Linked DNA regions of Homo sapiens. The protein of the gene in region 2 purifies or fractionates together with the protein of the main gene of each other region. This does not show direct contact. Each region holds a gene or a part of one and is shown on either strand. Other genes may lie near its edges.

Region 1 (3,754 bases), on a different chromosome or scaffold from region 2:
GTCCCTCAATACCTCTCCATCCACAAGTGGCCAGAGGGCAGGGATATGACACAGGGGAAGGGAGCAAAGATTGGGAAATGAAAGGAGGGACAGTGTGGAGAGGGAGCATGGCAGGTGTATTACCGGTTCCTGCCTGGGGTTGGGGGTCGGGAAGGGCCGGCGCCCTGAGAGGCTCTCTCCAGCACCAGCACCACTTTGCCATGTTCTTCCAGCCGCATGGTCTTTGCCTCCACATCCTGGAGAACAGGCCACATCCCATGCTCAACTCATGATGTTCCAGCTTTAGACCCTCTCATCTACCTCCTTCATTCCAGCCCCTGAGCCCCATGAGGGTCCCACAGGGACCCACAGCCCTTCTCCCACCTCCGACTTTGGCTCCACCTCCTCAGCCTTCCCTACCTTCCATGCATCCTGCCTCCCCCACAGCCTAGTCCCCCGCCCCCTGCATGCCCATCCTTCCCCTGGTCTCCCACACTGAGCCTGAAGTCACTGGTCTCACTGAACTCCTTCTGTGCCTTATGGGCTTCACCTTCTCACACACACCCAGGGCTATGGTCCCACTGCCAGCTGTCATAGCCCAGCATCTCTTACCTGCCCTGCTTCTTACAGGCCCTCTGCTCTGGTCCCTACTCCTCTCTCCACATCACTTCTCTGGACGAATGGCCCCTGCCCTCCCCAACCCCAGCAGCAGCACCTTGATGATACGGTTGAAGTCCTGCTTGTCCACACGCAGGAAATGACAGTTGTCTTCTCGCAGGATGATGGTGGCTGCCCGGGGTGCATCATTCACCAGAGCCAGCTGTCCAAAATCATCTCCCTCATGCAGGGTGGTCACCAGCCCCTGCAGCCAGGCCTCAGTCTCAGCCCGCCCCTGCCGCCCCTGCCGCCCCCAGCTCTTGCCAGGACAGACCCACGGCAGGAGAACAACCCACACAGGAGACACGGGGTCAGCAGCAGTAGATCAACAAAGGCACTGCCCATGAGGACATGGACCAGGGAGCAGTTAGGACCCAGGGCACTGGGGTGGGGAGGAGGGAGGGCTCACCTTGCCATGGGTCACCACGTTGACAGATCCCTTCCAGATAATGTACCACGAAGTGCCCTTGTCCCCCTGGCTGAACACTGACAGAAGCATACCTCAGACCGGGCCCTCCTGGCACCTACCATTCCTTCACACATCCTTCTGCCCATGTCCAGGCCCTGTGCCTGGCTTCTTATGCCCTGCTGGACTTACACACGGTCCCTGCCTTGCTGTGTGGTTCAAAGAGCAGAACAGCCGCTAATTCTCGCTTCACCTGTGTGGTGGAGATAGGAGAGTCGGTGGCGACAAGTTCATGTGCAGAGCAGCCAGGCTTTTGCTAGGGGTGTGGTTAGGTCCAAAGACACAAGTGCTGGGGGACAAAGATGTGGCCAGGTCAGGTGTTCCCAGGATTCAGCAGGAGACAAAGCAAGTGGAGAAAATGGGCTGAGAGAGGCGGAAGGATTTTCAGACAGGGCAGCGCCGGGGGCAAGAAATCAGACTGAAAATTTCCAGCCATAGATGGAAGTGGAGAAATGCCCTCTGGCCCAGCAGTTGGAGTTTCAGGGAAGTCACAGGAAGAGAAGATGCCTGGTACGGGGCAGGGCTGGGAGGGGCAGGACTGACCGAGTTGGAGAGGTGGGCCACAGCCTTGATGTGCAGCAGCTCCTCAAAGATGAGGTCCAGCTCTTCATCCGTGCGCTGACCTGGGCTGCAGGGACAGGAGGAATGGGAGCACACTGTGAACTGTGGGCCCGTCAGGTGCAGGGAGCCACTCCACCCACCCAGCCGATGCCTGTGCCAGACGGTGCCTCAGCAGTGACAGTTATCAGCAGCAGCTAACCTTTACTGAGTGCGCACATGTGGCAGCGCTTGTGATGAGCATTTTGCATGCATTGTTTCACAACAACCCTAAGGAGTGGTTCTATCATCCTCACTTGACAGAACAGGAACTAGCATGAGGAGGCTCAAGGTCACCCAGCCAGTAGCCAGTCCAGCTGGAATTTGAACCTGGACCCACCGGACTGCAGTTTCCAAAACCCACTTGCTTTCAGCCACAACTGTGTCTCTGAGTGGGAAGGGTCCTCAGAGATCCCCCTGGTCCAACATCCTCATCTACAGAGGAAGAAACTGACTTGGGGGGGTTTGGGAGTGTGGAGGGATCCAGGTCACACAGTGAGTCCGTGGCAGTCAGCGCCAGGGGCTTCTGGGCCAGCCAGGTTCCCTTCCCTCCACAACAGGTAAGGGATGCCCCCAGAGATCAATCTGAGAAACCGTGAAATCTGAGTGCTGTGTGAGGCCTGGGGTCACGGGGTGCAGGGATTCTGACTCACGGCTTTCGAAGTGCCACAGTGAGCAGGGCGTCAGGCCCCCGCTGGGAGAGCAGGGCCACAGCTTCGGCCAACTCCTCCTCCATCTCATGAGTTCTCACGGGCTCGGGCTCGGGCCCGGGGAACCGGTAGAATTGGGCATCTCGGTCCTGGAAGGCCCAGTCGTGTTTCACTGGGGGGCAGAGGCCCAGGCGTGGGGGAGGAGAGGAAATTGAGGCTATGTGGGTATGAAACCCCACTGCGATGCCACCCCTCAGCACTCCCCAAGTAGTGCCTGCTTCCCAGGACTGCCCTGTCCTGTCCCCCTCACTGCCCAGCCCAGCCCGGGGCACCCCACCCTGGGCTCGGGCTCACCATGGCAGAGGGCACCTTCATCCAGCAGCACCTGGCAGATTCCCACAACTTGGCTCCGGGAATGGACCCCAAGTCCCAGGGCCAAGATCCCATCCACCAGCTCCCGGCCAGAGCAGCACTGCCTATGGAAGGTAGAAGGGGACAGGCCAGTGGAAGGAGGGTGGCAGGGAGAGGGAGGAACTATGCATTAGAAAGGCACCCTCTGAGGCCCAAGCCTGGTTCGTCCCTGTGCTAGAAGCAGGGTGAGGCCCAGGTGCCTGACATAAAGTGGAACGGAGAGAAAGCAGTGAGGCTGGGCAAGGAGGCAGCAGGGCCTCCACTCACCGATAGAGCCTAAGGTGGTACTTCCGGTCTCGGATGAGGTTTGGGCAGGTGGCCAGCAGATGCCGATGCAGCTGCCTCCCAGCCCTGAGCACCCGCTCTGTGGAGGCCTTAGAGGGAGGAAGGGCACAGCAGTTCAGGCTCTGAACCCCTCATGGTGCTGCCTGTCCCAGCTCCACCCTGCCCAGGCTTCTACCTGCTCCAGGCTCTCGCTGAAATCCAGGGACTCCTCGCTGTTGGTGAGTGGTGTCTGGGGGCAGCAGGGAAAGCGTGCACATCAGTGTGAGGTCTTCAAGCCCAGCTCTTGGATACCTCCCCTCCCCCATCACTCCCACTCTTGCCTAGGCCCCAACCCCAAATGCATCCATGTGGCCACTCCTTCAGCAAATAAACAAATATTCACTCAGCACCCTGTGCCCCGGGCATCGCCTCTTCCCACCCTGCCATCCTGATCACCAAACCCAACTCAAGGACTGCCTCCCTACAGTTGAGAGCCCTAAGACACCCATTCTGCTTACTCAGGGCCCAGGTGTGCCCATGCCCCCAGGTGAACTGCCCCTGTTGGGGGAAAGAAGTGAGGGAGCTGGAAGGAGCATGAGGACATGAGATAAGAAGACCTGGGAGATGGGAGCCAGGATGTGAGCAGCTCAGGAGGCCTGGGAACATCCGCTCCTGGGCTGGGGTCACAGACCTGATCCCCAGCCAGGTTCTGTGTCCTTCCACAGGCCCA
Region 2 (4,516 bases):
ACACAAATGTGAGCTTTTAAAATCTAAAAGGTTCTCACTATTAAAAATGTTTTGTTAAATTTTGTTTTAAAAGTAAGATTTTAATATCCAAATTCCCAAAATAGACATTTTTGAAGATTTGGAAAATACAGACGGCTCAAAATCTTTACATTATTACTGTTAAATTTTGGTATGTTCTGTTATTCTGCTAGTGAAATATATATAGATTTGGGGGGGCTATTCCTTTTCCTTTTTTTTTTTTTTTTTGAGACAAGGGTCTCACTCTGGTGCCCAGGATGGAATGCAGTGGCGCTATCACAGTTCATTGTAACCTGGAACTCCTGGACTCGAGGGATCCTCCCGCCTCGACCTCCCAAAGTGCTGGGGCTACCAGCTTAAGCCACTGTGCCAGGCGAATGGCTATTCCTATATACACAGTTGACCCTTGAATAACATGGGTTTGAACTGCCTGGGCCCGCTTATAAGCCGACAGAAAATACAGTATTGGAGGGGCCTGCATATAGAGAGGTCTGACTTTTCCTCTAAGTGTTCCACCCGCAGGACTGACTGCGGGATTTGAGAATGCGCGGACTTCTTCTTCTTCTTTTTTTTTTTAGGAAGTCTTACTCTCGCCCAGGCTTGAGTGCAGTGGCGCGATCTCAGCTCACTGTAACCCTCGCCTCTCAGTTTCAAGCGATTCTCGTGCCTCAGCCTCCCGAGTAGCTGGGATTATAGGGGCCCACCTCCACGCCCAGGTAATTTTTTGTATTTTTAGTAGAGATGGGCTTTCGCCATGTTGGCCAGGCTGGTTTCGAACTCCTGACCTCAGGTGATCCGCCCGCCTCGGCCTCCCAAAGTGCTGGGATTACAGGCGTGAACCACAGCGCCCGGCGGAATGCGTGGATTTTGGCATAAGACGGTGGTTCTGGAACCAATCCCCCGCCGAGATGACTGTTTAAAAAATTGTAATTGTCCAAAACTTAATATTTGTGGTCTTTTTCATTATGCAGTTCTAAATCTCCCTTTTTTTTTTTTTTTAAATTCAGACGGAGTCTCCCTCTGTCGCCCAGACGGCGCAATCTCGGCTCACTGCAACCTCCGCCTCCCGGGTTCAAGCGATTCTCCTGCCTTAGCCTCCGGAGTAGCTGGGACTACAGGCGTCCGACACCACGGCCGGCTAATTTTTTGTATTTTTGGTAGAGATGGGGTTTCCCTGTGCTAGCCAGGATGGTCTCGATTTCCTGACCTCATGATCCGCCCGCCGTGGCCTCTCAAAGTGCTGGGATTACAGGCGTGAGCCACCACGCCTGGCCCTCATTTAATAAGATATGAATTTAAAAATGTATGCTTTAGTATTCACACATGTCCGATGCAACGTATTTAACCAGTCATCTCCAGAAACTTTGTTCCAATTTACACGTTCACCAAATTGGCCTGAGTGCTTTTTTTCTTCCAATGCATTGCGCACTTATAATTTAGAACAAGTGACCAAAACGCTTAAGAGCCCATCACGCAAATTGTTATCTGCTGGAAATCTACGCCCTAGGCTGTGGACACTGGCGGCCGAAATCTGATCCCGGCTTGCCAAGACACCCTCAGAGCACGCGGCGCTGCCAAGAGCCTGGCCGAGTGCAGCTCGAGCGCCGACGTCGCCAACGTGGCGCACACTGCTGACGCAGTACGCAAGTTCGTCACAGTGGTCCTCCGCCGGCTGCGCCGCAAGTTCGTCACAGTGGTCCTCCGCCGGCTACGGCGCTGCGTCACTGGTTTGCAGGCGCTTTCCTCTTGGAAGTGGCGACTGCTGCGGGCCTGAGCGCTGGTCTCACGCGCCTCGGGAGCCAGGTTGGCGGCGCGATGAGGCGCAGCAAGGCTGACGTGGAGCGGTACATCGCCTCGGTGCAGGGCTCCACCCCGTCGCCTCGACAGGTGAGTGGGTCTCGAAGAGACCGACGGCCTCGACCTGGCCGGGCGGCGGCCTCGCGCTGCTCAGGCGTCATGGCTCCCGACGGGCGCTGCTCCCTGGCGCGCTCTGTTGAGGCGCCGGCCGGCTGGCGCAGTCCTGTGGGCGGCGTGGCGCTTGCAAGCGCATGAAGAGTCCTGGGGGGACAGCGGTGGGCGGGAGACCTTTGGCGCCGGCGCTTCCTCTTTCTCCCGGCTTGTTCCCGACGCTTGTTCCCGACGGTGCTCGCTCCTGGGGCCGCCCTGGCCCGGGCTTTCTGGCCGATCGCGCACCCCGTAGTACCCGCGCGGCCTAGTTCTCGGGGGCTTGGGCACCCGGGTGCTGTATCGGCGGGTTTCTTCCCATCTCCTGGACATATACTTTATATGCTGCGGCGGAGGTCGTACCTCCTTGGCCTGGAGGAACCCAGTGGGGACTGACGCAGCTCCGGGTGAGCTTTGGCGGCTGCGTCGAGTGACAAGGTAGGCATCTCAGCGCGGACATTTGCAATGGCCCGACGGCGCAAATGACACTGAAAGTCCCCTTGTTTTGAGTATGAGGTGTTTGTCGCTGTCCCTTTGTAAGGGTCCAGCTCCACTCCGCTCCTCATACTCACCTCCCTCGCCCCCCTCCCCGCCCGGAACACTTTGGTAGCTGCCTTTGCTTAAAAAAAAAAAATTCTAAAGTTCTTACAAATCGTTAGTATGGCTTGCAATTTTTAACCTTTTCCACAAATGTTTTAAGGGTATTTTTCCTCTTTACATGTAAATAATGTGATCTATTTTGGATTCAATAAGACTTTAGTAATTGGATCTAAAGAGTGACGGAAGAAGCTATTAAAGGTGGATGTGCGCAGAATCTTGAGTCAGTTTGCTTTGGCTTGAATAATCACAGCACTGTCGTTTATAAGCTGGGTATTTGGGGCCAGTTACACTTTTCATCCATAGATGGAGTTGTAACATTAATAGAATTTGATAGGATGATCCATTTTAAACATTTAGGGTATTGCTTGACACATAGCACTAAATGTTAGCTACAAGTCACTTTTTATTGTTGATGTTAAAAGGATATTGGCGGGGCGCAGTGGCTCACGCCTGTAATCCCACCACTTTGGGAGGCCGAGGAGGGCGGATTGCCTGAGGTCAGGAGTTCGTGACCAGCCTGGCTAACATGTTGATACCTCGTCTCTACTAAAAATACAAAAAAAGTTAGCCGGGCGTGGTGGCGCATGCCTGTAGTCCCAGCTACCCGGGAGGCTGAGGCAGGAGAGTCGCTTGAACCCGGGAGGCGGAGGTTCCAGTGAGCCGAGATCGCGCTACTGCACTCCAGCCTGGGCGACAGAGGGAGACTCCAAAAAAACAAAAACAAAAACAAAAAAAACCCGGAAACTCACGGATGACCATGATTATAATAGTAGCATAATTGTGTCTCTTATCGTAACTAAGCATAGGTTATCTTATTTTGCGCTTCCAGCAGCCCTGTGGATATTGAGACCTGTAGAGATTTAAGATACTTGTTCAGGGTCAAATAGATAGTGCAGCAGAATTTTGGCAGTGGGTCTGATTTAGTTTCTCTTGGGAACAGTGGAGTAAGTTACAGTCTATTCCTCCAGAGGAGGAGGATAGATATCTACTTGTACATTGTAATTTCAAACTGCTAGCATAGTATAAATATGAATGTGATGATAGAGTCTAAAACAGACCTTAATTGAGGGTTCCTGTAACTCCTGAAATTAAAGACTTTAATTTTTGTGTTATTTTATTTTTTTTGAGGTGGGGTCTCACTCTGTCACCCAGCTGGATGCAGTGGCGCTATCTCGACTCACTGCACCTTCCGCCTCCCCAGCTCAAGCGATGCTCCCACCTCAGTCTCCCGAGTAGTTGGGACCACAGGTGTACCCACCACACCCGCTGTTTTGTTTTGTTTTGTATTTTTGGTAGAGACTGGGTTTCACCATGTTGCCCAGGCTGTTCTTGAACTCCTGGGCTCAAGTGATTTCCCCGCCTCCACTTCCCAAAGTGTTGGGATTATAGGCGTGAGCCACTGCACCGGCCATTATTTTATTTTTGAGACAAGGTCTCTTTCTGTCTCCCAGGCTGGAGTGCTGTGGCGGGATCGTGGCTCACTGCAGCGTTGACGTCCTGGGCTCAATCCATCCTCCCACCTTAGCCTCCTGGGTAGCTGAGACTACAGGCATGTGCCACCATGCCCGGCTTTTTTCTTTAATGTAGAGACGGGGTCTTATCATGTTACCCAGGCTGGTCTCCAACTCCTGGGCTCAAGTGATCCTCCCGCCTTGGCCCCAAGTGCTGAGATTACAGGTGTGAGCCACTCTGCTCAGCCTGATTTTTTTTTTTTTAAACAAGCTTAAAAAAAAAAAAAAGCAAGCTTAGAGCCTTTCTGAGATTCTTAGTGGGGACCTTGGCTTCCAAAAGATTAAAAACCACTGGTCTAGACAGAAGTTAGAATGTTCTTTCAACTACATAACTTCTCCATTAAATAAAGTGGAGTGGTGGCAGAATTTTGAGGATTGGTTATTATGACACCTCTCTTACACTTAGAGTCTTTTTTTTCCCCCAAATTTAAAGTCATTTACAT
Region 3 (3,754 bases), on a different chromosome or scaffold from region 2:
CCAGTGTTAAATGATTGCCTAGAGTCACACTGTTGACGGTCTGGGGCCTTTTTCACCATGTTACTTAGTTCTCTCATCAAACCACCTAGGACTGTCAAGCATACTTCATTGTGTGTTTAGAGTCCAGCATCTCATATGTGGCCACTTGGTGGGCCAGTGCTACCGTGTAGGTAGTACCAGCTTCCTGAAGGTGCCCACATGCTTGTAGGCCCAAATTGCCACTAACAGCGAGACCCCATTCTCCCCACCATCCACCCCGAAATGAGGATTATTCTGCTGAAAACAAAGTAAAAATAGTGAAAACACCTTTGTTTCAGAATGTAGAAATTAGAGATAATTTTTCAACCCATCTATTTTAAGTATGTTCCAAGGAAAATCTTTGCAATAAATACAGTTCTTGCCACACACCTTTGTCTTTCGAGGTAAGACTGGCCTTTGATTAGTAAGAGACATGATAACCCACACTTGAGGGTTACTCCGGTCTCTAGACTCTTGATTTACCCTTAAAACAGGAATGAGAAATTGATTTTCTGCATTTTTTAAGGTTTTTATAAATGTTACTATTGATAATAGAAAATATACTTTTTAATCCATATGAGTGTTTATGTGTATGTTTTTTTTAGGATGATAATGATGTTTATATTCTGACCAAAGTGTCAGATATTTTACACTCAATATTCAGTAGCTACAAAGAAAAGGTGTTACCATGGTTTGAACAGCTGCTTCCATTAATTGTCAACCTCATTGTAAGTGTTACCTCTCTTAATAGTTGTTTTGCGTAGTTTACCTGGAATTCTTTTCACTGCAACGTAAAATCTAATGCTTGAAGTTAAAATGGGTCTCAGAAATGATTGTTTCCATTGTACATCTTTGATTTTATCAAGTTGACTGCATTACCCTGGATATTTTCTCATTCATTATATGCTTGAAGATTCCTAACTTGGTTTTCCATAGGCCAATTCAGTTCTAACACATCTGAAAGATATATAAGTGATTTTTTTTATTATTTCAGATTATCTGTGCCCTCCTAAATTAATAAAAGGAAACAGAATGGTTACTTCTTTTTTAGTGGACCATAGATAATTCAATTATCTTTGTTATGTACTACCAGCAATCATGGATTATGGATAATGGGCATATATATATATATATGTATTTTTTTTTTACCTTCTCTCACCCTTATATTTGATTTTTTTAAAATGTTTTATAGACTTCTTTTTGTTTGTTTGTTTGTTTGTTTTTCTCAAGATGGAGTCTTGCTCTGTCGCCCAGGCTGGAGTGCAGTGGTGCAATCTCGGCTCACTGCAACCTCCGCCTTCTGGGTTCAAGCAATTCAGACGCACGCCACCACACCCGACGAATTTTTTGTATTTTAGTAGAGATGGGGTTTCACCATGTTGACCAGGCTGGTCTCCAACTCCTGACCTAGTGATCCACCCGCCTCGGCCTCCCAAAGTGCTGGGATTACAGGCATGAGCCACTGCGCCCAGGCCTACGCTTCCTATTTTAAAGCAGTTTTAGATTCACAACCAAATTGAACAGGAGGTACAGAGATTTCCCATGTGCCTCTGCCCCTGTGCGTGCATGGCCTCAGCACCATTAACACCCCCCATCACAGTAGTAGATACATGTGTTTCTGTTATGGACCTACATCAACACATCATATAATGGCCTATGTGTATTCAGTTTTTTTGTTTGTTTTGTTTTTTTGTATTTTTAGTTGTGTTTTTTTGTTGGGTTTTTAGTAGAGATGGGGTTTCACCATATCGGCCAGACTGGTCTCAACCTCCTGACCTTGTGATCCGCCCACTTTGGCCTCCTAAAGTGCTGGGATTACAGGCGTGAGCCACCTCGCCTGGCTGTGTATTCGGTTTTTAAAAAATATATTATAAATTAGCAGCTATCATCAGATGTTTGGAATTTTTCTTTTTGGCTTTCAATTTTGCATTTTATTGTATTAAGTAGTGCAGTACATTTTTTAAAAGATTCGGGCACACATGACTTAGCCTGTTGAATAAATGCTATAAGTTAAGATCTTTGCAGCTTTTATTATTATTGTATTTTTTTAATGTAGCATTACCATTGTCTTTTTTACAAAGTAAATTTATATACAATGCTTCCACTGTCAGTTCTTCTGTGTGATAGTGTCAGATTGTAGAGTTCTGTAACAAATCATACAAGTCTTTGAAACCTAAATTTTATTAAATCTGTGTATTTGATTGAATATCGTTGGTCACAAGAAGTGGTTGTTACTATGTTTTCTTTTTTCTTTTGCCTGTATGAGGAATATCAATGTAAGCAGATAGTCTATAGTGAATATTTCTTTACATTCTTTGTGTACACCAGTATTTGAAGCTTAAAAGAGAATTTCTTTTGTAGTGTCCACATAGACCATGGCCAGACAGACAATGGGGATTATGCATCTTTGATGATGTCATAGAACACTGTAGTCCAGCCTCATTTAAATACGCAGAATATTTCTTAAGACCAATGCTCCAATATGTATGTGACAACAGCCCAGAAGTCAGGCAAGCAGCTGCATATGGCCTGGGAGTCATGGCACAGTACGGTGGAGATAATTATCGCCCTTTTTGTACAGGTACGTTTGCTTATTCCGTTACGTGCATTTCATTCCAGACATCCTGTGAATCCCTACTTTACTCTCTTTACCACACTCCCAAACATTATTTGCCTATTTCTGCTGTAGTCTGTTTTCAGACATCTCATCTGTAGCATTTAGGATTTTAGATGATAAAAAGATGATTTATTCTCATAGAAATAGAATCAAAGACATCCCCTGCCCCCAGCCTTCCAGGGTGCATTTCTCTTTGCGTTTTGGCAATATACAACAGCCTTAGAATAGGACTTTTTTTTTTTTCTTTAATTGAGGCCCAGGCTGGAGTGCAGTGGCATGATCTCGGCTCACTGCAACCTCCGCCTCCCGGGTTCGAGCAATTCTGCTTCAGCCTCCTGAGTAGCTGGGACTACAGGCGCATGCCACCACGCCTGGCTAATTTTTTCTATTTTTAGTAGAGATGGGGTTTCACCATGTTAGCCAGGATGGTCTCGATCTCCTGACCTCGTGATCGGCCCACCTCAGCCTCCCAAAGTGCTGAGATTACAGGCGTGAGCCACCACACCTGGCAGAATAGGACTTTTAAAACTTACTGGGGAATATAGTTAGGCAGCTTTTAAAGTTTAAGGACCCTCGGGTGATGTGATGAGTACTGTAAATCTGGAGGCCACTAATCTCTCTGGGTCTCTAAGTTAGTAGAGGGCTAGTGCTCCTGTCCATGCTGGGGCAGTCCCCCCTCTGTTGCCATTCTGTAATGACATAGCCAAGAAGACAACACTTCCCATACACTTTAACATTTCTTTACCATAATCAATATCTGAACCAAATACAAAAATACATATATTCATTTGCATGAAAATGTGAGGTTTTAGCTGAACTTCTTTCAAATGCTTATTTTAGAAGCACTTCCCCTGCTGGTAAGAGTTATTCAGTCTGCGGATTCTAAGACCAAAGAAAATGTCAATGCTACAGAGAACTGCATCTCAGCAGTAGGGAAAATCATGAAGTTCAAGCCTGACTGTGTAAACGTTGAAGAGGTCCTTCCACACTGGTTGTCTTGGCTTCCACTACATGAAGATAAAGAAGAAGCTGTTCAGACTTTCAATTATCTGTGTGACCTGATTGAAAGGTAGGAAAGCAGACTGTGACCTTATTTCCTTCTCCTCCACAGTGCTTCCT
Region 4 (3,754 bases), on a different chromosome or scaffold from region 2:
GGCAGGCAGATCACGAGGTCAGGAGATCAAGACCATCCTGCGTAACACGGTGAAGCCCTGTCTCTACAAAAAAGGTAAAAAATTAGCCAGGCGTGGGGGCATGTGCCTGTGGTCCTAGCTACTAGGGAGGCTGCAGCAGGAGAATCACTGGAACCCAGGAGGTGGAGGTTGCAGTGAGTCAAGATAGTGCCACTGCACTCCAGCCTGGGCAACAGAGTGAAGACGCCGTCTCAAAACAACAACAAAAAAATGTTTCAAAGCAACATTAATATGTATGATTTGTTTACCATTCGAAATCAGCCATATTCCTACTATTTCTTTCAGTGTGAATATTAAGTTTACTACAATTATACTAAAATAAGAACACAGATGTAACTCATAAACAGTTGGAAGCTATACCTTGTGCTCGAAGCTGGACTAGTTCTTCACTGAGGGCATCGACAGATTCCTCCAACTGTCTTTTCTTTTGTTCCACATTTTGAAGGTATTCAGTCAATGACTTGATTTTGGCTTCATGCTTTTGGAAAAAATATACTGATATGAAGTGGAAAACATATGCATACACTTTAAGAATATTTGACAGTAAACATTTCATTATCTATATATGATAAATTTGGGAATATTTAAAACTAAAATATTCAGGAGCCAATTTTGAAATGTTAAAGAATGTAATCAATTAATTCATTGGTGATCATAACTTGCAAACTAAGGCACTGAAGACTCAAATATGAAATACTAATTTTACAGATACCACCATCTAACGTTACCATCTTCCCTCCTTGTGAAATTCTGATAGTGGTGAATGGCCCCATTCATTCAGTTGCCAAGCCAGGAAACTGGTTCCCTGCAGTTTTGCCCACCCTGGAATTCTGAAGTCTTTAACAAGTTACCACCAGTCACATCATTCTGGTAAATTTCTATACATAACCCATATTTATGTTAGGCAAATATAACTCAGTTAAATCATTCAAATTTACTGCAGCTAGACTAGGAAAAAAACAACTAAATTTCACCTATAGACACACATTTTTCTGAAAACTTGTATAATAAATAAAATTTCTATGTGGCTGTTTCAAAAAAATGAATAAACTTTGTTCTATAACATACTTGAGAGATACGAAGCTGACATGCTGCTAACTCCTTTTCATTTTCTTCCATTTTTTTGTTGCTCTCAGTTTGTGTGCTTTCTAACTGCTTGCAACGTTTCACCATGGTTTTTACTTCTGACTTCATTTTGCTAATGTAGAGTCTTGCAACAGTGAACTCTTCATCTATCATGCCAGTTCCCTCAGGCTGCTGTAAGGAAAAAGTAAAATAAAAAATTAAAGCCAAAAATGTTCAATGTGTGTTTTCCCAATTAGGCTATAAAATCTTTTTATAAAATATATTTTAGTATTACTCAATATTCATACAAAGTCTGGATCTTATTTTTTTCTTTTATTACTGTTTTCAACGAAAGGTAAATAAATACAGCTTACTTTTTGCCTTCCTTTTTTTAAAAACTGAGAATAATGTTAATACATGCCAACAAGAAAAATAAATAAATGTAAACCTAAAGAAAACACAAAAATACAACCAAACTAATAAATTCTGCCTCTTTCAATTTTTTCACTTCCTCTTTACAGGACCTCTTCAGTAAATTCATTGTTAATCATGTGCACGTTCAGCTTAAAATTTAACAAGAGGATGTTTAGGTGGCAGGGAAAGGATGAACTTTAAGCTCAACCAGAAGGAATTGTGGTCACTGTATATTCCTTCACCTTCAGGAAGAAATAAAACTGTGCAGATGACATGATTAAGTTTACATGTAAAGTCAAAAGACCCTGAATAGCTAGCACAACACTAAGGACAAACAAAGTCACAGGACTTGACACTATGCAACTTACTGTAAAGCTATAATAATCAAAACAGTACAGTGCTGGCAAAGAACAGATAAACAGGTTAACAGAACAGAATAAAGAGCCCAGGAATAAAACCACAAAATACAGTCAACTGATCTCTGACAAAGGTGCAAAGGCAATTTAATGGAGGGAGGACAGTCTCTTCAACTGGACATCCAGATGTGAAACAATGAATCCTGGTACACACCTTACCCCTTTCAGAAAAATTAACTCCAAATGGATCATAGATCTAAATGTAAATGCAAAACTGAAAAAAAAACTTTTAACACAGGAGAAAATCTAGGTGATATTGGGTTTGGTGACAAGTTTTTAAATACAATACCAAAAACACAATCTATTAATGTAAAACTTGGTAAGTTGGACCTCATTAAAATTAAAAATTTTTAGTCTCAAAAAATGACGTTGAGAGTAAAAAAAAAAAACAAAAAAAAAAAAACAAGACACAGAGAAATAATGCAAAACACTATCTGATAAAAGACTTATATCCAAAACATATGAAGAACTCTTTTTTTTTTTTTTTTTTTTTTTTTTGAGACGGAGTCTCGCTCTGTCGCCCAGGCTGGAGTGCAGTGGCGGGATCTCGGCTCACTGCAAGCTCCGCCTCCCGGGTTCACGCCATTCTCCTGCCTCAGCCTCCCAAGTAGCTGGGACTACAGGCGCCCGCCACTACGCCCGGCTAATTTTTTGTATTTTTAGTAGAGACGGGGTTTCACCGTTTTAGCCAGGATGGTCTTGATCTCCTGACCTCGTGATCCGCCCGCCTCGGCCTCCCAAAGTGCTGGGATTACAGGCGTGAGCCACCGCGCCCGGCCGAAGAACTCTTAAAACTCAACAATAGGAGGCCAGGTACGGTGGCTCACGCCTGTAATCCCAGCAATTTGGGAGGCTGACGCGGGCAGATCACCTGAGGTCAGGAGTTCAAGACCAGCCTGGCCAATATGGCGAAACCCAGTTGCTACTAAAAATACAAAAAATTAGCCAGGTGTGGTAGTGGGAGCCTGTAGTCCCAGCTACTCGGGAGGCTGAGGCAGAAGAATTGCTTGAACCCAGGAAGAGGAGCTTGCAGTGAGCCGAGATCATGCCACTGCACTCCAACCTAGGCGACAGAGCGAGACTCCATCTCAAAATAAAACAAAACAAAACTCAACAACAGGGCCAGGCGCAGTGGCTCATGCCTGTAGTACCAGCACTTTGGGAGGCTGAGGCAGGCGGACCACCTGTAGTCAGGAGTTCGAAACCAGCCTGGACAATATGGTGAAATCCCATCTCTACTAAAAATATAAAAATTAACCAGGCGTGGTGGTACGCGCCTGTGTTCCCAGCTATTTGGCAGGCTGAGGCAGAAGAATCACTTGAACCCAGGAGGCGGAGGTTATGGTGGGCCAAAATCACGCCACTGCACTCCAGCCTGGGTGACAGAGCGAGACTCCGTCTCAAAGAAAAAGAAAACCTCAACAATAAGAAAAAACACAACTGCAAATTAAAATGACAATAAAATAACACCATACATTAGTAAAATCCCAAGAAACTGACAAGAGCAAACACTGGCAATGATGTGGAACAGCAGACTCTCATTCATGGCTGATAGGAATGCAAAATGTTTCCACCACTTTGGAAGACCATTTGGGAGTTCCTTACAAAGCTAACATAGTCATAACGTACAACCTAGCACTTCTAGGTATTTTTACTCAACTGAACTGAAAATTTATGTCCAAAGAATAACTTACACATGAATTATTATTATTTTTTTTGGAGACAGAGTCTCACTCTGTCACCTAGGAAGGAGTGCAGTGGTACCATCTTGGCTCACTGCAACCTCCACTTCCTGGGCTCAAGCAATTCTCGTGCCTTAG

What was found.
Region 1: the proteins of RANBP2 (region 2) and RAPGEF3 purify together in Homo sapiens (affinity purification with western blotting; 2 studies listed by BioGRID, with this or other methods). This does not show direct contact.
Region 3: the proteins of RANBP2 (region 2) and IPO5 purify together in Homo sapiens (affinity purification with mass spectrometry; 2 studies listed by BioGRID and IntAct, with this or other methods). This does not show direct contact.
Region 4: the proteins of RANBP2 (region 2) and KIF5B purify together in Homo sapiens (affinity purification with western blotting; 2 studies listed by BioGRID and IntAct, with this or other methods). This does not show direct contact.

Annotation. Positions count from the first base shown.
Region 1 is NC_000012.12:47,748,696-47,752,449, forward strand, and holds part of RAPGEF3 (rap guanine nucleotide exchange factor 3), read right to left. Parts: intron 3,275-3,754; coding exon 3,221-3,274; intron 3,135-3,220; coding exon 3,028-3,134; intron 2,826-3,027; coding exon 2,704-2,825; intron 2,567-2,703; coding exon of another isoform or gene 2,522-2,566; coding exon 2,353-2,521; intron 1,731-2,352; coding exon 1,646-1,730; intron 1,296-1,645; coding exon 1,235-1,295; intron 1,123-1,234; coding exon 1,046-1,122; intron 842-1,045; coding exon 695-841; intron 237-694; coding exon 124-236; intron 1-123. UniProt on the Homo sapiens protein: Guanine nucleotide exchange factor (GEF) for RAP1A and RAP2A small GTPases that is activated by binding cAMP.
Region 2 is NC_000002.12:108,717,774-108,722,289, forward strand, and holds the start of RANBP2 (E3 SUMO-protein ligase RanBP2), read left to right. Parts: upstream 1-1,708; 5' UTR 1,709-1,833; coding exon 1,834-1,905; intron 1,906-4,516. UniProt on the Homo sapiens protein: E3 SUMO-protein ligase which facilitates SUMO1 and SUMO2 conjugation by UBE2I. Involved in transport factor (Ran-GTP, karyopherin)-mediated protein import via the F-G repeat-containing domain which acts as a docking site for substrates.
Region 3 is NC_000013.11:98,016,106-98,019,859, forward strand, and holds part of IPO5 (importin-5), read left to right. Parts: intron 1-623; coding exon 624-746; intron 747-2,379; coding exon 2,380-2,599; intron 2,600-3,475; coding exon 3,476-3,704; intron 3,705-3,754. UniProt on the Homo sapiens protein: Functions in nuclear protein import as nuclear transport receptor. Serves as receptor for nuclear localization signals (NLS) in cargo substrates.
Region 4 is NC_000010.11:32,021,741-32,025,494, forward strand, and holds part of KIF5B (kinesin-1 heavy chain), read right to left. Parts: intron 1,297-3,754; coding exon 1,108-1,296; intron 518-1,107; coding exon 400-517; intron 1-399. UniProt on the Homo sapiens protein: Microtubule-dependent motor required for normal distribution of mitochondria and lysosomes. Can induce formation of neurite-like membrane protrusions in non-neuronal cells in a ZFYVE27-dependent manner.